Homo sapiens: one gene and its partners. The protein of the gene in region 7 purifies or fractionates together with the protein of the main gene of each other region. This does not show direct contact. Each region holds a gene or a part of one and is shown on either strand. Other genes may lie near its edges. The genes, in order: G3BP2, IPO7, HADHA, TNPO1, HEATR3, XPO5 and CA9.

What was found.
Region 1: the proteins of CA9 (region 7) and G3BP2 purify together in Homo sapiens (affinity purification with mass spectrometry, with the first as the bait; one study listed by BioGRID). This does not show direct contact.
Region 2: the proteins of CA9 (region 7) and IPO7 purify together in Homo sapiens (affinity purification with mass spectrometry, with the first as the bait; one study listed by BioGRID). This does not show direct contact.
Region 3: the proteins of CA9 (region 7) and HADHA purify together in Homo sapiens (affinity purification with mass spectrometry, with the first as the bait; one study listed by BioGRID). This does not show direct contact.
Region 4: the proteins of CA9 (region 7) and TNPO1 purify together in Homo sapiens (affinity purification with western blotting; one study listed by BioGRID). This does not show direct contact.
Region 5: the proteins of CA9 (region 7) and HEATR3 purify together in Homo sapiens (affinity purification with mass spectrometry, with the first as the bait; one study listed by BioGRID). This does not show direct contact.
Region 6: the proteins of CA9 (region 7) and XPO5 purify together in Homo sapiens (affinity purification with mass spectrometry, with the first as the bait; one study listed by BioGRID). This does not show direct contact.

The regions. Positions count from the first base shown.
Region 1 is NC_000004.12:75,666,912-75,670,411, forward strand, and holds part of G3BP2 (ras GTPase-activating protein-binding protein 2), read right to left. Parts: intron 1-3,500.
Region 2 is NC_000011.10:9,387,652-9,391,151, reverse strand, and holds part of IPO7 (importin-7), read right to left. Parts: intron 1-3,500. UniProt on the Homo sapiens protein: Functions in nuclear protein import, either by acting as autonomous nuclear transport receptor or as an adapter-like protein in association with the importin-beta subunit KPNB1.
Region 3 is NC_000002.12:26,199,633-26,203,132, forward strand, and holds part of HADHA (trifunctional enzyme subunit alpha, mitochondrial precursor), read right to left. Parts: exon of another isoform or gene 2,688-3,500; coding exon of another isoform or gene 2,601-2,687; intron 1,689-2,600; coding exon 1,517-1,688; intron 1-1,516. UniProt on the Homo sapiens protein: Mitochondrial trifunctional enzyme catalyzes the last three of the four reactions of the mitochondrial beta-oxidation pathway.
Region 4 is NC_000005.10:72,823,161-72,826,660, forward strand, and holds part of TNPO1 (transportin-1), read left to right. Parts: intron 1-3,500. UniProt on the Homo sapiens protein: Functions in nuclear protein import as nuclear transport receptor. Serves as receptor for nuclear localization signals (NLS) in cargo substrates.
Region 5 is NC_000016.10:50,082,970-50,086,469, forward strand, and holds part of HEATR3 (HEAT repeat-containing protein 3), read left to right. Parts: intron 1-967; coding exon 968-1,058; intron 1,059-1,138; exon of another isoform or gene 1,139-1,164; coding exon 1,165-1,322; intron 1,323-1,599; coding exon 1,600-1,682; intron 1,683-3,245; coding exon 3,246-3,382; intron 3,383-3,500. UniProt on the Homo sapiens protein: Plays a role in ribosome biogenesis and in nuclear import of the 60S ribosomal protein L5/large ribosomal subunit protein uL18 (RPL5). Required for proper erythrocyte maturation.
Region 6 is NC_000006.12:43,527,539-43,531,038, forward strand, and holds part of XPO5 (exportin-5), read right to left. Parts: intron 3,287-3,500; coding exon 3,150-3,286; intron 1,839-3,149; exon of another isoform or gene 1,818-1,838; coding exon of another isoform or gene 1,711-1,817; intron 1,388-1,710; coding exon 1,290-1,387; intron 668-1,289; coding exon 621-667; intron 194-620; coding exon 96-193; intron 1-95. UniProt on the Homo sapiens protein: Mediates the nuclear export of proteins bearing a double-stranded RNA binding domain (dsRBD) and double-stranded RNAs (cargos). XPO5 in the nucleus binds cooperatively to the RNA and to the GTPase Ran in its active GTP-bound form.
Region 7 is NC_000009.12:35,676,928-35,679,293, reverse strand, and holds part of CA9 (carbonic anhydrase 9 precursor), read right to left. Parts: intron 1,618-2,366; coding exon of another isoform or gene 1,603-1,617; exon of another isoform or gene 1,505-1,602; coding exon 1,438-1,504; intron 110-1,437; coding exon 1-109. UniProt on the Homo sapiens protein: Catalyzes the interconversion between carbon dioxide and water and the dissociated ions of carbonic acid (i.e. bicarbonate and hydrogen ions).

The DNA of each region.
Region 1 (3,500 bases), on a different chromosome or scaffold from region 7:
CCTTACTGGATCTCGATTTCCTAGTTTACAAATTGAGAAGAAATCCCCGGTCAAGCCTACAAGACTATACAGTTCTACAAAGATAGCCAAGAAGGCCTGGTGCAGTGGCTCACACCTGTAATCCCAATATTTTGGGAGGCCAAAGTGGGTGAATCGCTTGAGCTCAGGTGTTTGAGACCAGCCCAGGCAACATGGCAAAACCCCGTCTCTACTAAAAAATACAAAAAATTAGCGGGGCGTGGTAGTGTGCAAGCGTAGCTCCAGCTACTCGGGAAGCTGAGGTGGGAGGAATGCCTGAGCCCGGGAAGTCAAGGCTGCAGCGAGCCAAGATGGCACCACCGCACTCAAACCTGGGTAACAGGAGTGAGACACTGTTTAAAAAAAAAAAAAAAAAGATAGCCAAGATTAAAGGATACTTATACACAAAAAGAAATCTTTAGAAAGTTCTTAGATTAGCACCTTCAAAGATAACTACCATCTTCAATAAGGTGGTTGTTAGCCTCACCTAACAACCTTTTTAGAAAAAGTTAAATACAATATATCACACTCCACTTCTTCCAATGACACCTGAAAATGTGAAGAATCTCACACAGGAATGCACAGTGTAAAATTTTATCTGATACATTAGCTCTATACACAGTCAAAGCTCTCTCATGAACAAATCCGTCTTTTACTTGTCAAATGAAAACATTATCCAAGGCCAGGCGCAGTGGCTCATGCCTACTTCCCAGCACTTTGGGAGGCAATGGCAGGAGGATCACAAGGTCAGGAGATCGAGACCATCCTGGCTAACACAGTGAAAGCCCGTCTCTACTAAAAATACAAAAAATTAGCCAGGCCTGGTGGTACGCGCCTATAGTCCCAGCTACTCAGGAGGCTAAGGCAGCAGAATTGCTTGAACTCAGAGGCAAAGGTTGCAGTAAGCTGAGATCACACCCTTGCACTTCAGCCTGGGCAACAAGAGCGAAACTCTGTCTCAAAAAACAAAAAACCGAAAACATTATCCAGTATAGTTTAGAGGCTTTTTACTCTCCAACTCTGCCTATCGCACCTAAAATCCCAGTGAATCTTCATCAGAATATTTTATTCATTCCTGTTTCTTAAAATGTTTCCTCTGCATTTGCCTAATTCCTGAAGCACATGCACTTCAGCTCTCACGGAAAATTGCTCTATATTTGTCACCATATTTTCTGAATCTATTAATTATACACATTGAGAGAGAGTGGAGTATTGGTAGATAATACACACTGAGAGGGAGTGGAGCATTGGTAGACATACATGCAGATTAGAAAAGAAAGTCACATTGAGCTTCATTATCCTACAATGAACTTATATTTCCTCAGTTTCAAAATAACGTAAAAACCAAAGTTATCACTCTCCTTTCCTCAAACTTTGACTAAAACGTCACCTTTTAGGTAAGAAACATTTAGGTTTTTTGTTTACCATTTAAAGTTCAGTGAATCACTACTATAATGGGGCTGCCTCCAAAACAATCAATCTTAGGCTACATTAATTTAGATGTAATATCTAAAATGAGTTGATTGCTAATTGAATATAGTGAATGGAAATTATAAGAAGGTAGATTTGGGTGAAACATAACACAAGAATAACGCGAGTTGTCCAAATATCAAATAGAGCTACTTAACAAGTAGCCAGTCACTACAGGTATTCCAGAGACTAACTGAATGGTTTGGCACAAACATAGTAGAGTCCATACATCCAAAAAAGTAAGATTAGGCCATTCCAACACTAAGATCCTAAAAGTCTGTTAACAAGAAGCAGGACTTTTGACTTCTCCTCCAATACTCATCTCACACCTTCCTATCTGCAATGATTGAAACCCTATGCATTTATCTGGGCCCAGCAGAAATCCTGTCCCCTTGAAAATCTTTCTACTCCTACTGAATTCCTCAACAGAATATAACTCTTCTCTATTAACTCTTAAAGCACTTTTGGCCTTTATCATAGCAGTTTATTGATCATGCTCTGCCCTAAATTACTAACTGTACACCTGTCTTCATCTTCTATTCCCCTCTCAAATATTATAACTCAGCTCTCCTTTGAATGCAATTCTCTGGAAACATCACAATTCTTCTCAATAATCGAATGACTTCTCAATCCTCCACCCATCTGCATTATCAATGTTGACTACCTCCTCCTAACTCTTCTAGAGTTCTATAAGGCAAATTTTCCTTCTCATCCAAACGCAGAATTTCTCAAGGTTCTGTCTTCTAACCTGGCAATTTCAGCTTCTGGTCTCATGTCTACCTAAACGTGTATCTAGTCTATACCATAAGTTCAAATTTTACATTTGTCACCACATACTGAACACCTAGACATGACCCACATATGTCCCAATACACGCATGCACCAAAGAAAGCTATTTCCTTATTTCTGTTAAAAGTGTCATAATCTTCTCAACTTGAAAGCTCAGTCGTGACTTTCTCCCCTTTAGCTTTGCCACTTAAACTGTGAAATCCTTACAATTCAGAAGGTGGAATTTGTGCCCTCCTTTTCACTCCCACTGTTCAGACCTTTTATTCTTCAAAAGTCTTTCAAGCCCCTGTATCACGTGTAGTATATACTGTACTGAGTAAAATCCAAACACCTGCATTCAGTTTGGCATCTAAGGCCCTACACAGAAATCCAGTCTGACATTCAATGTCATAACCAACCTTTCAAATTTATCTCCTACTATACTTTCTCATCCCTGTATCAAATTCTATACAAATATTTTAATCACCTAATATTATTCTCTGCAATTTCACTCTCTGCGCCTTTGTCTTACTTCATTCATTCCCATCCACAAGCTGAGTCAATGGGTTATACAAAATAAATTCATTTCAACATTTATTTTATGGCTACTATGTATGTACCAGAAACTACAAAAGGAAAAAGAGGCCGGGTGCAGTGGCTCACGCCTGTAATTCTAGCACTTCGGGAGGCCGAGATGGGTGGATCACCTGAGGTCAGGAGTTCGAGACCAGCCTGACCAACATGGCAAAACCCATCTCTACTAAAAACACAAAAAAGTTAGCCGTGTGCAGTGGCGGGCGCCTGTAATCCCAGCTACTCAGGAGGCTGAAGCAGGAGAATCGCTTGAACCCGGGGGCGGAGGTTGCAGTGAGCTGAGTTGTAAGTACTTGGTATTAGTTATTATAAAAAGAATAAGACCTCTAGTAATAGGAGGCAGTTCTCTTTACCAGATACTGTTACCAAAGGTTATGTGGGTGCTAAGACACAGCTTATCTCCACTATAGGATACTTACCCCTTTCCCCTCTGGAGTCCCTCACTCATAGCTGGGCTCAAACTAGTCAGGTTTATTTATTTTAATTGAACCATGGACTATATCCATTTCCAACAGCTAAATGCATATTAATACTGGAACTTTCTGAAATTCCAGATGGTTTTTGTTTGAAGTAACTTAAACAATCTAAGGAACACTATACCTTTTTAAAGAAATGACCTTCAATCTTTTGTGGTACACCATTGAATGAAA
Region 2 (3,500 bases), on a different chromosome or scaffold from region 7:
CTGGATTACAGGCGTGAGCCACCGCATCTGACCTCCAACTAGGAACTTTAAAAAAAAACTTTTTTATTAGAAATCATTTAGCAGCCGGGCGCTGTGATTCATGCCTGTAATCCCAACACTTTGGGAGGCAGAGGCGGGTGGATCACCTGAGGTCAGGAGTTCAAGACCAGCCTGGCCAACAAGGTGAAACCCCATCTCTACCAAAAATACAAAAATTAGCCAGGAGTGGTGGCGGGCGCCTGCAGTCCCAGCTACTCGGGAGGCTGAGGCAGGAGAATTGCTTGAACCCAGAAGGCAGAGGTTGCAGTGAACCAAGACTGCGCCACTGCATTCCAGCCTGGGTGACAGAGCGAGGCTCTGGCTAAAAAAAAAAATTTTTTTTGTATGTTGCCCAGGCTGGTCTCAAACTCCTGGACGAGCGATCCTCTTCCTGCTTTTACCTCCCAAAGTGCTGGGATTACAGGCGTGAGCCACTGCGCCCAAACTCTTTCAGATCTTTAACAAGCTATATCATTGAATAACTTGCTATCTAACAGCCGAAGTATCCAGGGACTTTCCTTCTCCCAAATTCAGAACAGTACTTCAAAATATTCCTGGTGAAGGAATGTTATCTAAACTACAGGCTACTCTGGTCTTCCTAAAATATTTTGCTTAATTTCTAAACATTCCAAATTATCTTACAAATATGCCATTATTTTACACTTTTCCAGACCTAAGATTTTCATTAAATACTTTTAATAAAATGGAATCAAATGAACCATTTATAAGTAAGGTATATCACATACAGCAGTAATAGTTAACCTTTTGTGACAATCCCAAAAGTGATCCAGGGTAGTGTGAGTTAAAAAAAAAAAAACACACACACACACAAAATATCAAGAAACTTACCAAAAGCAAGATCACTTTTTCATATAAAGCAAGTGAGAAAGTAGCACTGCTGCCTGTACATATAAAACCATTAGGCCGGGCACGGTGGCTCAGGCCTGTAATCCCAGCACTTTGGGAGGCCAAGACGGACGGATCACCTGAGGTCAGGAGTTCGAGACCAGCCTGGCCAACATGGCGAAACCCCGTCTCTACTAAAAATATAAAATTAGGCCAGGCGCAGTGGCTCACGCCTGTAATCCCAAGACTTTGGGAGGCTGAGGTGGGCAATCACCTGCAGTGAGGAGTTCAAGACCAGGCTGGCCAACATGGTGAAACCCCGTCTCTACTAAAAACACAAAAATTAGCCGTGTGTGGTGGTGCATTCCTTTAATCCCAGCTACTCGGGAGGCTGAGGCAGAATTGCCTGAACCCGGGAGATGGAGGTTGCAGTGAGCCGGATGGCACCAATGCACTCTAGCCTGGGCAAAAAGAGCGAAACTCCACTCAAAAAAAAAAAAAGGTGTATATACATATATAACCATTATATACCATATTGAGCTTAGGAACTAAGAGTTTAAATGTCTCCTGGGTAAACCCTCTAATTCCACTTACAGCATTTTTCTTGACTGCGAATATAACAGGGGAAAGACTATTGATGCGGAGATCATATCCACCTTAGCCAAAATCAGATCTAATAGTTTCGTCATCCAAAACTTACATGTAGCTTTATTATAGTACTGACCACATGTATTGTATGGGCCAGTGACGTGGTGATTATGGAGCTCTAGAAAGGCAGTGATCATAAATTTCTCTGCATCTAACTACTTAGCTCAGTGCCTAGCACACAGACATTTGCTGTTACATGAACCAGACTGGGAATTATCCTTCGGAATGAGTATTTAATAAAAATCTTCCTGGCATTATATTTAAAAACACCGGCTGGTGTGGTGGCTCATGCCTGTAATCTCAGCACTTTGGGAGGCCAAGGTGAGTGGATCACTTAAGGTCAGGAGTTCGAGACCAGCCTGGGCAATGTGGCGAAACCCCGTCTCTACTAAAAATACAAAAATTGGCCAGATGTGGTGGCACCTGTAGTCTCAGTTACTCAAGAGGCTGAGGACTGAGAATCGCTTGAACCTGGGATTGGAGGCTACAGTGAGCCAAGATCATGCCACCGCACTCTAGCCTGGGCAACCGAGTGAGAACCTGCCACAAAAATACTAATAATAATAATAATAAATTTTAAAAAATAAATAAAAGAGCTAAAGCCTATACTGTTATTTATTAATATTATAACAGGAAGTCAGTCATAAAGCCTATTACTGGGAAATCAAGGAATAACAATAACAAAAAATAACAATTCATGACCTCAAGAAACTTAAAATTATAGTGGGGAGAAGAAAAGTTAAGTAAAATTAGGCCAGGCGTGGTAGCACGTGTCTGCAGTCCCAGCCACCTGGGAGGCTCAGATGGGAGGACGCTGCTTGAGGCCAAGAGTTCTAGGCTGTAGTGTACTATGTAGTGCAGTGGAGCCCACTGCACTCCAGCCTGGGTAACATAGCAAGGCCTTAGCTCTGAAAAAATTAAAAATAAGCCTGGGCAACACGGTGAAACCTTGTCTCTACAAAAAATACAAAAATTAATTGGGCATAGTGGCACATCCCCGTAGTCTCAGCTACCTGGGAGGCTGAAGTGGGAGTGTTGCTTGAGCCCGAGAGGGAGAGGCTGCAGTGAGCCATGATGGTGCCACTGCACTCCAGCCTGGGTGATGGAGCAAGACCCTGTCTCAAAAAATAAATATAAATAAATAGGCTGGGCATGGTGGCTCATTCCTGTAATCCCAGCACTTTGGGAGGCCGAGGTGGGCGGATCACAAGGTCAGGAGTTGGAGACCAGCCTGGCCAACATGGTAAAACCCCATCTCTGCTAAAAATACAGAATTAGCCAGGTGTGGTGGCAAACGCCTGTAATCCCAGCTACTTGGGAGGCTGAGGCAGGAGAATTGCTTGAACCCAGGAGGCAGAAGTTGCGGTGGGCTCATATTGCGCCACTGCACTCCAGCCTGGGCAACAAGAGCAAGACTCCGTCTCAAAAAAAAAAAAATTTATTTATTTATTTATTTTTATTTTTATTTTTTGAGACGCAGTTTCGCTCTTGTTGCTCAGGCTGGAGTGCAATGGTACGATCTCGGCTCACCGCAACCTCCACCTCCCGGGTTCAAGCGATTCTCCTGCCTCAGCCTCCCTAGTAGCTGGGATTACAGGCATGCGCCACCACGCCCAGCTAATTTTGTATTTTTAGTAGAGACGGGGTTTCTCCATGTTGGTCAGGCTGGTCTCGAACTCCCAACCTCAGGTGATCCGCCCGCCTCGGACTCCCAAAGTGCTGGAATTCCAGGCATGAGCCACCATGCCCAGCCAATGTTTTAAATTTAATTAATTAATTAATTTTTTTGAGATGGAGTCTCACTCTGTTGCCCAGGCTGGAGTGCAGTGGCACGATCTCAGCTCACCGCAACCTCCGCCTCCCAGGTTCAAGCGATTCTTCTGCCTCAGCCTCCTGAGTAGCTGGGATTACAAGCATGCGCCACCGCGCCCAGCTAATTTTGTATTCTTAGTAGAGATGGGGTTTCT
Region 3 (3,500 bases), on a different chromosome or scaffold from region 7:
TCAACACAATGCAGCAGAAGTTACCCTGCCAGTTCCAGGCCTACCTAGACCTGTGGGGCCCGGTAGCCTCTTTTTTTATTTTTTAAATTATTTATCTTTTTTTCTTCCTGACAATAAACTTAGGAAGCTCAGTAGCTTCTGCTTTTGTTCTCTTGGAAGCCTGCAGCCACGCTACAAAGAAGTTGTGGTGAGACGACTAAGTGAGGATGGACTATGAGAGATGTGGGGGAAGCAGTGAGGTGCCCCAACCGAGCTTCCTGCGGAATGCAGCCCAGGAGTGACCCCAGCCTTGAAATCAATGGACTTAAGCACCACTGTCTCTGCAGAGCCCTGCCCAGATTGCAGAATTGTGAAAAGATAGTTGTAAACACAGCAGTAGAACACGGAGACATGAGGAAGATACTAGAGAGGACAACCGAAACGGGGTGGTCTAGAGATCATGCCTGTGGAAGATTGTCCAAGGAATGGGTTTTGTTAGCTCTATGGGCAATAAGAGAAGATAATGTTTGTTTGTTTGTTTATTTATTTATTTTGAGACGGAGTTTTGCTCTGTGGTACTCTTATTTTTTGTAATGAGCTCACTGCTCATTATATCCAGCATGTTGCCAAGTCAGAATCATTTCATGTTCACCTTTCAGTAACCCACATTCTGTTTATCCAACTGTAGACTAGCTTAGGCCTTGGTCCTACCTCATCCCTGAATTACTGCTATTACTCCTTCTCGGGGCTTACTCTTCCTACTCCCCACTTCAAGTACTTGTTTTGTTCATGTCAGCCCATCTCAAGAAGTGCCTATGGAGAACATTTGGGAGCTGGGCCAAAGCAGCATTTCCACAGAACAAGCATCTGGACGAACTGTCTTCCCTATTTCCTTTGCAGCCTTAGACCTGAAGAGGTTTGTTTTTGGCTTTCGGCTAACCAAAAAATCTCAAAGCATCTGGCTATACTCTGTGAGGTTATCTGTATGTTTGGGTGACAGAGCTCCTACATGAATAAGGTGAACGCACCCTCATTTTCTTCCTTTAGAATTTAGATTTGACCTTTATAACATATGCAGTGTGCATGAGCACACATAAAAACTTAACGTTTGATAACAAAAAGTCTTTTTTTTTTTTTTGGAGATGGAGTCTCGCTCTGTCACCCAGACTGGAGTGCAGTGGCGTGATCTCGGCTCACTGCAACCTCTGCCTCCCAGGTTCCAGTGATTCTCCTGCTTCAGCCTCCCAAATAGCTGGGACTACAGGTGTGTGCCACCATGCCCGGCTAATTTTTGTATTTTCTAGTAGAGATGGGGTTTCATCATATCGGCCAGTCTGGTCTCGAACTCCTTACCTCGTGATCCGCCCACCTCAGCCTCCCAAACTACTGGGATTATAGGCGTGAGCCACCATGCCCAGCCTTTGAATAGTCCTTTTTATAAAAGCAATCATGAGTTTCCTATAGCTCCTTTAAAAAAAAAATCTCTGTGTTTTCTGTTCACTACACTAGGATTCAAGTACAACAGCCCCTTGCTTACCGCTTCTACTTCCTTTAGCACTCTGTGCTTAAGACTAAGGTCCTCAAACACAGCTTCAATCACCATGTCGGCCTTTTCAAAACCTTGGTAATCAAGCTGCCCAGTCAAGTTGCTGAAGATGGAATCCCTTTCAAATGATGTTAGAGCTTTCTTCTTCACTTTGTCATTCAATCTAGAAAAAACACATTCCTAGTTAGATGGGAAGAAAAGGAAACTAACGTTTATTGAATGTCCATGGGCCAGAGCACACCTGTGTTTTTCACCAACTCTGTGAGGTAGTTATTCTATTACTCCCATTTTGAGGGAGACTTTCAAGTTGTTTAGTCTTAGAGGGACCTGTGGTCAAATAGCTTGATAAGGGAGGGTGCTAGCATTCAAAGACATGTTAACTCCCAAGTACACATTCTTTCTACCATAGAATGCCTCCAAATGCCCAATTTACGTAAACTAAATCACTCTTAAACCAGTTAAATTTGCCAAGAGGAGTAAATAACATGAATACTAGAATGGCAAAACAAAAGAGGAGTTCTGGTAATTCTCTACCTATGACAGGGGAAGCAGCCAAAGTGTGTCTGAGACCACATGGTTTATATTTGCTTATCGCAAATATATAATTTTATGTTATTCTGTAGTTGTAATCTTTTTTTTTTTTTATTTATTTTTTGAGACGGAGTCTCGCTCTGTTGCCCAGGCTGGAGTGCAGTGGCGTGATCTCAGCTCACTGCAACCTCTTGTCTCCTGGGTTCAAGCAATTCTCTGCCTCAGCCTCCTGAGTAGCTGGGATTACAGGCGCCCACCACCACGCCTGGCTAATTTTTTTTTTTTTTTTTTTAGTAGAGATGGGGTTTCACCATCTTGGCCAGGCTGGTCTTGAACTCCTGACCTCGTGTTCCATCCGCCTCAGCCTCCCAAAGTGTTGGGATTATAGGCGTGAGCCACCGCGCCCAGCCTGTGGTTGTAATCTTCTAAAGAACAGAGACCAAGCATTATTTCCTATATTCTCCATCTACTTCCCACTCATTACCTAGTAGCACATTGCACTGATTACATAAAATATTAACTCAAGGTTTCTTTTTTCCCATAGGGAGCAGAAAAGGATTCCTGTTATTCAGACATTCAACTGATTATTTTTCGTCGCCAAGGGAAACAGGTTCTCTTAGATTCCGTCTGACCACACTTTCAGAATAAATTACCTACAGTTTTCCTCTAAATGAAGAATGAAGCTAAACCCCATTCACTAATTTCCTTAACCAAAAGCAAAATTAAGGCCACAAGATAAATACAAAGGAGTATTCAAAGAAGGTCTTAAGGGCTGGGCATGGTGGCTCACATCTGTAATCCCAGCACTTTGGGAGGCTGCAGCAGGCGGATCACTTGAGGCCAGGAGTTCAAGACAAGCCTAACCAACATGGTGAAATCCCGTCTCTATAAGAAAAACAAAAATCAGCTGTGCATGGTGGCGCATGCCTGTAGTCTCAGCTATTCGTGAGGCTGAGGCATGAGAATCGCTTGAACCCGGGAGGCAGAGGTTGCAGTGAGCCAAGATTGCACCATTGTGCTCTAGCCTCGGTAATAGAGTGAGACTGTCTCAAAAGAAACAAAAACATCAAATAAGGTCTTAAAAGTATGGGCTCAAAGCTTTTGTTTTTGACAATCATGACAGCAGTCAGCAAACAAGATACTTGTCAGCATTCAAAACATTATCAGTTGCTCTAATTCTAATGCCTGATTAAACTATTCCCAAGAGAGGACAGGAACTATTGTCCCAAGTCAGCAGTGTGGTGAGCGGCACTCGCCAGAACCTGATGTTTCTAAGACGAAAAGGGGAACCCAGGACACTATTCAAGAGAGACTGGGGGAGGAAACTATTTTAGAGCAACAATTTCTTACTTTGGTGATGGTATGGAATGCTGTTTGGGATGCTTGCATGCTAGTTTCAGGGCACTGCTGCTATCTAGCACACATCATTTTTTTGGTCAGAATC
Region 4 (3,500 bases), on a different chromosome or scaffold from region 7:
TAACTTTCCTCCCACTGTTTCTAGAGGTGGGAAAGATATCTGTCATGAGTCTTCTTACTTCTTTCAGACTATGCTTCCTCCTTTCTCCCTATAATCTTCAGTTTTGAATTATGTCATAAAGGCCCACTGTCCCACTCTCCAGTCTTTATATTGAAATTGATAAGAATGTACATAACTGATCCACCCAAACCCTGGCCTCTCACTTCCTAGACCTCTCTTCCAGTGCTCTTCCCATCTATGCTATATCAGCCACTCATTCCACAGTGATACCCTCGTGCACTGTCAATAACTGCAGTCCCTCCATAGTTGCCATTTCATGTGTTCTGCTCTGTTACCGCTTCTTCCTATTTTTGCAGCTCACTCCTAGTGCCTCAGCCCTAACCATCTTCTGACCCCAATGGAATCTCCAACCCATTGATCCTATTACTGCTCCCCTGCCCCTTACCCTCTTGATGTTTTCACTCCCTTTTATGTGGAATTTACTCATCTAAATTTCATGATTAATCAGTTTAATTACTTCTTTGGATCCCTTTCCTTGCTCTTTGCTTGTTTGGCAAAACCAGAGCTCTAGTTAAAACAAACTCTGGGGTTTTTTTTGCACTTGCCCCTATGTAACTGAGCATGGCCAGAAAAAAAACCACACAACCACACATGGCCACAAACCTTAAGTGGGTCTGTAATGCTGCCTGATGGTTGTACTGTATTTTCCTAGTCTGCTTACTCTTCCACTCCTCTAAATGACTATTTCATATCTTATTTTCCCCAAACCTTCTATATCTCTTTTCCCATCCTCACCTTCAGCTCATGACCTTGCTTCCCACTTTGCTGAGAAAATTGAAGTAATCAGAACTTCCATAGATTGCCACCACTCCACATACCTCTGGCACTCTATTTATGAAAGGGTCTGCGCAGCATCTGCTCAGTACATGGCTGTCTTCCTGCCTGTTACCTTAGATTAACTGTTCATATTCTTGTCTGCCTTTGTACTAGGCCCCATTCTCTCTCATCTGCTCAAGGACTTTGCTTCAGGTTCTCTTCTTCCACATCATCAATTTTGTTCTTTTTATTGAATCATTTCTATCAGCAAACAGATATGCTATTATTTCTCCCCTCTTAGGAAAAAATCTTGTCCCACTTCACCACATTACCCCAATTTTTTGTTTCCTTTGGGAGCAGTATTTCTCAAAATAGTTGTCTGTACTTGCTATTGCCAAGTTCTCTCCTCTAGTACTCTGTTAAACCCACTCTAGTGAGGTCTTTGTCTGCACCACTCCCACAGAAACAGCTCCTCTGGTTCTTCAGTAGCCCCCATATTGTTAAATGCCCTGTGTTATTGATTCTCATCCTATGTGACCTGTCAGCAGCATTTGACACAGCTGTTTGCTTCCCTTAGCCTTGAAACCATTTCTTCTTTGCCTTCGAGGACGTCACACGTTCCTGGTTATCTGCTGTCTCAGTGCTGGTCCTTGTAATTCTCCTTTTCCTTTATTTTCACTGACCTCTTAATGTTGGAGAGCCCCAAGTCTTAATTGTTTGTTTATTTGTTTCTATCTATGCTCACTTTATTGGTAATCTCATTTAGTCTCATGGCTTGAAATACCATGTAAATATCAACAATACCCAAATTTAGATCTTTAGCCCCCTCCTCAATTCCAGTCTTACATGTGCAACTACCTATTCAACATCTCCCCTAAATGTTTAATAATAGACATCAAAGTCAGCATATCCAAAACTAAACTCCTAAACTTTCTCCCCAATGCCTGCTTTACCCACAGACTCTCCCATTTCTGTCAGTGGCAACTCCGTCCTCCTGTAGCTCAGACCAAAATCTTGGCCTTATTTTTTTACTTCACTTTTTCTTTTACTCTTCAGATCTGTTCTTTCAGGACAATCTGTTTTCTGTATCGTCAAAATACATCGAAAATCCTATCATGCCTCACTGCTTCCTCCACTGCCACCACCCTTGTCCAAGCCACTACCATCACATCTTGTTGGATTACTGAAATAGGTTACTACCTGGTCTGCCCCTTCTGCCCTATCCCCTTCCAACAGTATTTTCTCAATACAGTAGCCAGAATAAACCTTTCGCAAATTAAGACAGTCCCTGTCACTTCTCCTGCAATGGCTCCTGTTACGATCTGAATGTATGTGTCCTCCCAAACTGTTGAAATCCTAACTCCCAAGGTATTAGGAAATGGGAGTGGAGTCCTCATGAATAGGATTGGTGCCCTTAAAAAGTCCTAGAGGCCAGGTGCGGTGGCTTATGTCCGTAATCCCAGCACTTTGGGAGGCTGAGGTGGGCGGATCATGAGGTCAGGAGATCGAGACCATCCTGGCTAAAACCGTGAAACCCTGTCTCTACTAAAAATACAAAAAATTAGCCGGGCGTGGTGGCACGTGCCTGTAGTCCCAGCTACTCGGGAGGCTGAGGCAGGAGAATCGCTTGAACCCAGGAGGCGGAAGTTGCAGTGAGCTGAGGTCACGCCACTGCACTCCAGCCTGGGTGACAGGGTGAGACTCTGTCTCAAAACAAAACAAAACTCTAGAGAGATCCCTTGCCCTTTGTCTCTTGAGGACACAGCAAGAAGTCTGTGAGCTAGAAAGCAGCCCTCACCAGATACTGAATATGCCTTGCTCTTGGACTTCCCATCCTACAGAATGGTAAGCAATCAATTTCTGTCATTTATAAGCTATCTCATTTATGGTATTTTGTTATAGCAACCCGAATGGACTAAGACATTCCCTTTCATTCACTCAGAGAAAAGCTGGTCCTGTGAGGCTCTACATGATCTGCCCAATCCACTCCACTTTCTCCTTACCTTCCTGACCTCATTTACTGTTACCACTGTTCTCCCCTTACTCACTGGCCTGCTTGCTATGTCTGTCCTGTTCCTACTTTAGGACTCTTGCTGGCTCCACTCTCTGAAATGTACTTCTTCCACATATCTGCTTGGCTCAATGGACTTACCTCCCAGTCTTTGCTCAGATCTTACCATCTATGAATACCCTGTTTAATACTATATTCTATCCTGCCCTTCCCCACCCACTCTTATCCTGGACTCCTTTTTATTTTTTGCATAGCACATACAACCTTCTAACATACTATATTAGGGGTCAGCAAGCCACAGCTCCATGAGCTTCTGCCCTGTTTTTGTACATCCTATAAGCAAAAGAATGGTTTTTACATTTTTAAACGGTTATGAAACAAAGCAAAAAATACGTGACATATATATGTGGCCTGCAAAGCCTAAAATATTTACTCTCTGTCCCTTTTCAAAAAAAGTTTACACTATGTATTTTATTCTGTTTATTGTCCTCCTCCTCCTGCAAGAATACAAGCTCCAAGAGGGCAAGATCTTTGTTTTATTTTTTGCTGTATCTGCAAGATACAGATACAGAGCCTAGAATGTAGTAGACACTTAGTAAGTATTTGTTAAATGAATTGTTCGTGATGGTGCAAAATGGTAATTATGTTAAATGTTCACCAATAGACCTATATA
Region 5 (3,500 bases), on a different chromosome or scaffold from region 7:
ACAAAAATTAAAAAAATTAGCCAGGCATGGTGGCATGCACCTGTAGCCCTAGCTACTCAGAGGCTGCGGCAAGAGGATTGCTTGAGTCCAGGAATTTGAGGCTGCAGTGAGCTATGAACGTGCCACTGCACTCCAGCCTAGGCAACAGAGTGAGACTCTGTCTCTAAGGGGGAAAAAAAAAGACAATTGAAAACTGAAGTTTGGAAATATTCAAATAGTAAAATATACATTATTTTTAGCTCATGTACTGTTTTGGAATATCAGTATGGTTATTTCACTTTCCATAGACAATTTGATAATTAAGGTTATATAAATTTATATTACCCATTTTAAGAAATGTTGGTTGATAATGTTAAGTTTAAGTTGGCGTTATATATTTTCAGAGAAAAAAAAAGCTTCCTTCTTTCTTTAGTCTTAGAGAAATGCTTTATTATAGTCTTTACAGAAAGGCAGGAAGCAAGTCTGTCTGCTCCATAGCAAGTTCTACAGGTCACATAAGGGCTCGTTAGTAGTGTGTGTTAGCGCAGCCATTCCAAGAAAGACATCTAAGCTAAGCATCTAAAAGCAGGTTTGGTGTTTCTAAGTGCCTGGTGTCTGAAATGAACTCTTGTTTAAATCTTAGTATGCCCAGCTACTTCTTGACACAGTAGATAAGTTTCAGGGTGAATTCTGTTCAGAATTCCTGAATATTTGTCTGTTCTCTCCAGCTAACTAAGTGACGCTTGGGGAATAGCCATGCAGATAGATGGAAACCCAGTTAACGGGGGCATGCTCCACTGTACCAAGAGGAATTATAATGCTCGTTTGTACTTCTGGCACTTCATGACTTTTCTTTTACCTACCCCATTCCCCGTGTGCTCTATTCCAAGCGCAAAAATCTTCTAGTAGGCTTTCACTAAGGAAATTCCCCAAAAACATTTTCCCAACCATTGAGAGTTGGTCATTTACTTTTTTTTTTTTTTTTAAGCCCACTGACAAGGAACTGAGAGAGACTATAGCATTGCTGACAGCCCAACAGACTGCTCTGGAAATTATTGTCAACATGTGCTGCAATGAAGGTTTGTTAACATTTACATTTAGACATTTTCCCCCTGAGCCAAGAGGGAAACTCCCGTGGAGATTTTCTTAACTATTCCAGTTCTGCGTGGTTTGCCCGCTTCCCAGATCCCTCTGATGACGAATGGGAAGAGCTTTCTAGCAGTGATGAAAGTGACGCATTTATGGAGAATTCCTTCAGTGAGTGCGGGGGACAGCTGTTTTCTCCCCTCTGCCTCTCCCATGAAGTTCACACGGCTCTCACCAACTACCTCATCCCAAAGAAGGTAATCCATTTTCATTCTAGGCTTACCGTGGAGCATGGGAAAGGCTTAAGCAAGGTATTCATTTTGTGTACAAAAGAAGCAAGCTCACACTTCCAGGTTGTAGATGGTGGTAAGATCTGAGACAAAGCTGAGCCTAACAGTACTGGAAATAGGCGAAAAGGTCATTCTATATGAAGCCTAACCATTTCACTTAGGAGTAATATGTTGGAATTATGTAAGGGAATCGTGTTAAATGACTACTCTTTAACCTTTGCTTTACTGCCTCTTTTAAATCTAGATTTTTGAGAAAACTGCCTTTCCAAACAGCATTGCAGTTGACCTATGTTCTAGGAACCCTACTTGGAAACCTTTGATTAGAAAGTAAGAACTCTTCTGCTTTCAAAAACATTTGTCATTATTTTATTTTATGAAATGATGGGCTATTAAATAGAAGGTGCTGACTCCCCCTAGGACCCAGAAGTTTTGTTCCTGGGTATATATACCAGAAAAATATGTGCCCACATGCCCTAGAATACATGTATATGAGAGTGTTCATAGCAGTGTGTGTCACAGTTGCCCCAACCCATAAACAAACGTGTTGTCCATCAGAGTTAGAATGGTAAATAAATTTTGACAAAATCACGCAGTACAATACATGCAGCAGTAAAAGGGATCTGAATTAGAGCTACTCACAACTCGGATGGAACTTACATTGTTGAACCAAAAAAGCGAGACATAAAAGAATACACACACTGTGATTCAGTTTTTACAAAGTTGAGAAACAGGCAACATTGAACTATTTTGTTCAGGGATGCATACCTTGGTGATAAACCTATTAAAAAAAAAAAGAGGCAAGGAAATGTTTACCATAGAAGTCTGTATGGTGCTTACCTGTAGGTGTCAGGGAGGTGGGATATTATATGGAAGAGATACAGGGGCTTTCAGGGTCCAGCAGTGTTAATTTCTTTCCCAGGTGCATGGGTTTTGGTTTCATAGACTGTTTGTTAAACTCTCTATGTATGTTGTGTACTTAACTGTATATATGTCACATTTCACAATTAAAAATAATTTTAGGCTGGGCATGGTGGCTCACACCTATAATCCCAGGACTCTGGGAGGCCAAGGTAGGAGGATCACTTGAGGCCAGGAGTTTGAAACCAGCCTGGGCAGCATAGCAAGACCCCATCTCTACAAAGGAAAAAAAAATACAAAAATTAGCCTGGCATAGTGGCACTCAGCTGTAGTCCTAGCTACTTAGGAGGCTGAAGTGGGAGGATTGCTTGAGCTCAGCAGTCTAAGGCTGTAGTGAGCTATGATGGTGACACTGTACTCCAGCCTGGGAAACAGAATGAGACCCTGTCTGAAGAAAATTATAATTTTAAGGATGCTACCCTACATAGAAATTTTTCTAAAACATATTCCTCATGACTCATGAATGAGTTGTGTATCAGAGGCCGTGAATATTCAAGCAGTTTGATTTGGCAGATTAACAGTTCACCTTATAATTCTAGCACTTTGGAAGGTACAGGCAGGAGGATTGTTTGAGGCCAAGAGTTCCAGAGCAGCCTGGGCAACATAGCAAGACCCCTATCTACAAAAAATAAAAAACTTAGCCAGGTGTGGTTGCATGCACATGTAATCCTGCTCCTTAGGAGGCTGAGGCAGGAGGATCACTTGTGCTCAGGAGGTTGAGGCTACAGCGAGCTGTGATCACACCACTGCACTCCAGCCTGGGCAACAGAGTAAGACCCTGTCTAAAAAATGATGATAAATTTTAGAAAACACAAAAAACAGTTCACCTTGTGATTCTTTGCTAACTGCCATAGATACCTTGTATTTACAGATATTTCCAGTCAGAACGTGAAGCTTAGGCTAAAAGTTAATACTGAATTCTGATGGGCAACTTCTGGAGAATCAGATGGCATTGTTTCACTTCCTTTCCAGAATGAACACTATTCAGTGCAGAGCCCTCTTCTGTCTCCAGAGTCTTGTGTCCCTCCTGGATGTGGAGCACCTGGGAGGAGCCGCAGCCCTTCAGACGCTTGCACAGCATCTGTCACAGCTGCTTTTTTCTCAACCAGGTATTTAGACTTTATTGCGAAAGACTACGCAGACGGAACAGAATTTTGAAGGGGCAGGAATTTGGATTTTGTAAATGTATATTGTTTGTCATCCAATGTGCAGAAACCTTTCCCAGAC
Region 6 (3,500 bases), on a different chromosome or scaffold from region 7:
CCTTTGCATTAGTCAGGCCTTCATGGAGTTGGCTGAGCGACCAGCTCTTCTTCCAGGAAAATCCTCTATAGCCCCAGTTTCGACATGCCACTTACTGATTAGGTCCATGACTTCTCGGGTTAACATCCTCACCAGTTGCTCCTCCAGCATCTCTTGAGACTCTGGGTTTTCATCTGCAGCCTCATCTTCTCCACTGCAGAAAACCAGGGGGCCAAGTTCCACAGGAGTGCAGAAAAGGAAGGACAAGGAAAGCAGCGACCCTAATCAGACTCTCTCTGACCACTTTCTTCTCCTTTGGGTCTTCGTTTTATGCAAAAGTTGGGAATGGACAGCAGTGATCCACTGAAGGACATTATTACTAGTGACTCTGTCCAGTTGGATAGACATTACAGAATTAAAATAAGTGAGTAAGGTAACAGTAGCCCCTATGAAGGCTGGATCTCAGAGTCTGCCTGCTGGTAACAGCCTGTCCAGACAAGCCATGTATCACCTAGGCTGAGAATGACTACAACCTACTGCTCTTCTACCCTGGGACAGCAGAATCCCTGCCCGCTTCCTTTTCCCACCCCAAACCTGGCTGCCAGTTCATCCACCAAGAAGAGTGGGTAGGTATCCCTTACCACAGCAGGCTCCTTTGGTTGATAACTTGCCATTTCTGAGAAAGCCTCTGGGAAAACACAAAGGAAATAAATGCTAGAATTGGGGAAAGGATTGGAACACATAATATCTAAAGTCAAGTCCACTTCATGATTAAAATTAGCCAAGGATGATTCTAGGCATCAATGACAACTTCTGTAGACTCCACACCACAAGGTTAAAAAAAACATCTATGGTTTCTGTAACCTATCCCACATCCCTGATGAAGGTGGTATCTCAAACACCTCTTTGCTTGGAAAGAATTAACAACATTTTTAGAATTCCTGGGTCTCTAGACATACCTGTTCTCCACCCAGCTGGTCCCCCTGCTTAATTCTAGAGTAAGGATAACAGACCCAGCATTCCTGGCAAGGGTCTGTGAGCAAGCATTCCTCTTTTTACCTCTCCTCAGTTAACAGGAGGTTAGGAGCAGAATCTGCAACTGAAGCTGTCTTGTGGCAATTAAATCAGTTTAGTTCTTTGGGGGCTGCTCGATCCTACAGCAAGGATAGTCAGCTGGGGTAGAAGCTCTGCCCAGCCAGTCTGGCAGGGCTAGTAGACAACACTTCTAGGAGCTCCTGACTTGCAAAGCTCAGAAATGGCCAGAGGCCTTAATAGTACTCTTTGCTTCCTGTTCCTGACTTATCTCTTACCATATGGAGGTAGGTGAAAAGAGGTCCGAGGATGGGGGATACCAGGGCTTCATAGTGCTCTGGGGGACAGAAGAGCACCAGAGGCTTTACAAAGACACGTGCTGCAACAAGTTAAGAAATTTTAGTGCATAGGCACACATCTCTCACCTGCCAGGTGGTGGGTTGCACCCCTGGGCAGAATCAATCCCTAAAGGATTTGCCAGATGTCAAAAATATCCTGTGTTAACAGTGAAAAAATCTTAAAGTTCTTTTCCTAAAATCCTAAATGGCACTGATATTGAATTCCATTATACTCTTAGTTTAGCTGCATTTCCGTCAGGCTGCACATTATGGTCACTGGCCCAAAAAGTAGGAATAAAAAAATAGGAAGGAGGACATCCTTGTAACAAACTCTCCTTCACCATTCTCCTTATAATTTCAGGTAAGAAAGATTTGCTGGCTGCGGTGGCTCACACCTGTAATCCCAGCACTTTGGGAGGCCAAGGCGAGTGGATCACGGGGTCAAGAGAGCGAGACCATCCTGGCTAACATGGTGAAACCCCGTCTCTACTAAAAAAAAAAAAAAAAAAAAAAAAAATTAGTCGGGCATGGGGGCGAGCGCCTGTAGTCCCAGCTACTCGAGAAGCTAAGGCAAGAGAATGGTGTGAACCTGGGAGGCGAAGCTTGCAGTGAGCCGAGATCACGCCACTGCACTCCAGCCTGGGCAACAGAGCAAGACTCCGTCTCAAAAAAAAAAAAAAAGAAAAGAAAGAAAGAGATTCAACTATTAATAAGGGTCTGAATGAGAATGAAGTGTTAAAACTGCTGCTTCTGGCTGGGTGTGGTGGCTCAGGCCTGTAATTCTAGCACTTTGGAGGCTGAGGCAGGAGAATTACTTGAGCCAGGAGTTTGAGACCACCCTGGGGAACATAATACAGACCCATCTCTACAAATAATAATAAAAACTAGCTGGGTGTGGTGGTGCGCATCTGTGGTCCAGTCCAGGCTCTTCAGGAAGCTGAGGTGGGAGGATCACTTGAGCCTGCACTGAGCTTTGATGGCACCACTGCATTCCTGCCTGGGTAACACTGAGACCCTGTCTCAAAAAAAAAAAAAAAAAAGTGCTTCTAAAAATACAGAAAAGGGATAAAAGTTTTATCTTTCACAGCTGGGCATGGTGGCTCACACCTGTAACCCCAGCACTTTGGGAGGCTGAGGCAGGCGGATTACTTGAGGTCAGGAGTTTGAGACCAGCCTGGCCAACATGGCGAAAACCTGTCTCTACTAAAAATACAAAAAAATTAGCTGGGCGTAGTAGCATGCGCCTGTAATCCCAGCTACTTGGGAGGCTGAGGCACATGAATCACTTGAACCCAGGAGGTGGAAGTTGCAGTAAGACAAGATCATGCCACTGCACTCCAGCCTGGGCAATAGAGCAAAACTCTGTCTCAAAAAATAGGAATAAAAATCAGCTGGGCGTGATGGTGCACACCTGTAATCACAGCTAGTTAGGAGGCTGAGGCACAAGAATAGCTTGAACCTGAGAGGCAGAAGCTGTGAGCCGAGATCATACCACTGCACTCCAGCCTGTGCAACAGAGTGAGCAAGACTGTCTCAAAAAAAAAAAAAAGTTTTATCTGTAATAATTCCGAGAAGGGGGAAGGTAAAAATTTACCCCTAAGGAAAAGTTTATGGCCATCTGGACTGCCTTCATGTTTTCCCTGCAATCTGCCAGTGTTTTTAATGACATGATACACTTAGATACATAATCTCATCTCTTCCTTCCAGTTCTGCCTCTTCCCTCTGGTTGCTGTGACCTGTTTTGTTTCTCTCTCTAATTTTCTGACCTTTTGGGTTATGTAGAGACTTTTGAAAGGATATGAAGCATGGGTCTGAGTCGGTAGTCAGGAATATTGTTCAAGTTGACAAAGGCTGAGCTGAGAAGCTGGGTAGCAAGGTCCTCCACAGTATAGAAGTCTTGCTGCATGGAAGGGCCTGCCTTCCCTAGGATATGAAAACTGTAAAGGGGAAAAAAAGAGCATTGAAAATGACAAATCCAACATCTGTTACTGCCAGCCCTGTCCCATGAATTTCATTTCTAGCCTACAATAAGGTTTTTCAGCCAGAAGAGCAGTTGTATTTACTTAAGAGAACTTATAGATACAGCATCTTTTTAAAGACAGATGTTGGTGGCCGAGATCAGCAGTAGCTTTCATTACTATTTAATGTGGA
Region 7 (2,366 bases):
CCCTGGGCACAGGGCGGTGTAGTCAGAGACCCCTCATATTGGAAGTAGCGGCTGAAGTCAGAGGGCAGGAGTGCAGATATGTCCAGTCCTGGGACCTGAGTCTCTGAGCCTGTGAAGAGGATCTATGTTGGGGTCTCATCTACATTGCACCCCCTTAAAGCTTCAGGGTATAGGGATACAGTTTCACCTCCCAGAAGCCAAGGTAACTCAACTCTGAGACCACTTCTTCGCTAAGTGCAGGCCCTTCCCATAAGACGTAACTCAAAAAAAAGTACAGGGCTTTGGAGCAACTGGAAGAGGCCTGAGGAAGCAAGAGAGGAAGAAAGAAAGGAAGGAGAGAAGGGAAGGTGGGAGGGAAGGGAGGAAGGAAGAGAAGGAAAGAAGAAAGACCGTCTGAGTCTACACTCTTAACTCTGTGTACCATCATAAAGTGCTGGGCCACAAGTTTAAGCCCAGAGCAAATTAAAAAGAAAAAATGAATCCCAGCACTTTGGGAGGCCGAGGCTGGTGGATCACAAGGTCAGGAGTTTGAGAGCAGCCTGGCCAATATGGTGAAACCCTGTCTCTACTAAAGATGTAAAAAAAAAAAAAAAGAAAAGAAAAGAAAAAATGATCTGAATAACTTGTAAATAAATATGAATATTGATAACTATACAAAACAGACACAAGAAATGCAAAGGCAGAGTTCTACCTAGTCTAGCAGAAACCTAAAAGGTCTAGTAGAGTAAGTGAGATTTAAAATGACCCAAGAGTGACTAAGAAGAGAACGATTTCCAACAAAAGTATTTACAAAGTTAAAATATTTGATGCTTATTAAAGATAAACAGTTCTCAGAAAAAGTTTAGCTCTCCAGACTTGACCTTGACAATTCCAAACACCATTTTTTGGTCTTGTTTTTTTTGTCTCATTTTGGTTTTTGCTTGGTTTTCTTTTTTTTTTTTTTTTTTGAGACAAGAGTCTCGCTCTGTTGCCCAGGCTGGAGTGCAGTGGCACGATCTCGGCTCACTGCAACTTCTGCCTCCCGGGTTCATGCCATTCTCCTGCCTCAGCCTCCCGAGTAGCTGGGATTACAGGCACCCGCCACCACGCCTGGCTATTTTTTCGTATTTTTAGTAGAGATGGGGTTTCACCATGTTGGCCAGGATGGTCTTGATCTCTTGACCTCGTGATCCACCTGCCTTGGCCTCCCAAAGTGCTGGGATTACAGGCGTGAGCCACCGTGCCCGGCGGTTTTTGCTTGGTTTTCAATCTGTAGGCAGCCGTTTGCGGGTAACTGTGTCTGTCAGCTTCATGGTTATTATCAAGATGAGCGCTGGCTCATGCTTCAATCCCTCCTGCACTGGAGGGAGCCCATCTCCAGCCTCAGACCTGAAGCTCCAAAGGGTGATTCTTTATGAACTAGGCCACAGAGATTAGTGGCCAGACCAACAAACTGACCTTCCTCAGCGATTTCTTCCAAGCGAGACAGCAACTGCTCATAGGCACTGTTTTCTTCCGGGCCCTCCTGGGGGATGACATTGTAAGACAGATGAGTGCATGTATCCAGGGCCATGGCTGAAGGCCGGAACATGAAGGGGGGTTCCCATAGACCTCTCCCATTCCTCAGCTCTGAGAATGCTGAGGGAACATAAAATTGTAATGGTTGTTGCTTTTTGTTGTTGCTGTTGTTTTTTTTTTTAGAGACAGTGTCTCCCTCTTAAAATCCTATGTATTATTTCAAACTCTATGTACTCTTGCTGTGCGAACCAACAAGCTTGGTGGACTGGTTTTCAATGACAAGCTGGAGAGAGAGGGAGAGAGCCCACTTTACTTAGGATACTAGGCTCTCAGTGACCCGTGCCCTTCTGACGTTTGCAGTCTCACTCACTGCTGCCTCCGTACATACTCCCCACAGGAAACCATATATACACCTTTGTGTTGGTGTCACCTCTGCATTCACCTTCATGATTCTGTGTTTGGCTTTTCAGGTGAGGTCCTGACATGCCACTTCTTTTATTTATTATTCTTTTTTCTTATTTTGCTTATGAACCTAATGTTAAGAACATTATGAACCTAAGAGTATGAACATATTGACATGCTATGATGGAGGCATTTCTCTGAACTTTGTGCTGTGTGGCTGGCATTAAAGAATCAGTGAGTGTGGCTGGGCACGGTGGCTCACACTTGTAATCAGCACTTTGGTAGGCTGAGTCAGGCGGATCACTTGAGGCCAGGAGTTTGAGACCAGCCTGACCAACATGGTGAAACCCTGTCTACTAAAAATACAAAAAAAAATTAGCTGGGCATGGTGGCACACACCTGTAACCCCAGCTACTCAGGAAGCTGAGGCAGGAGAATCCCTTGAACCCGGGAGGCGGAAGTTGCAG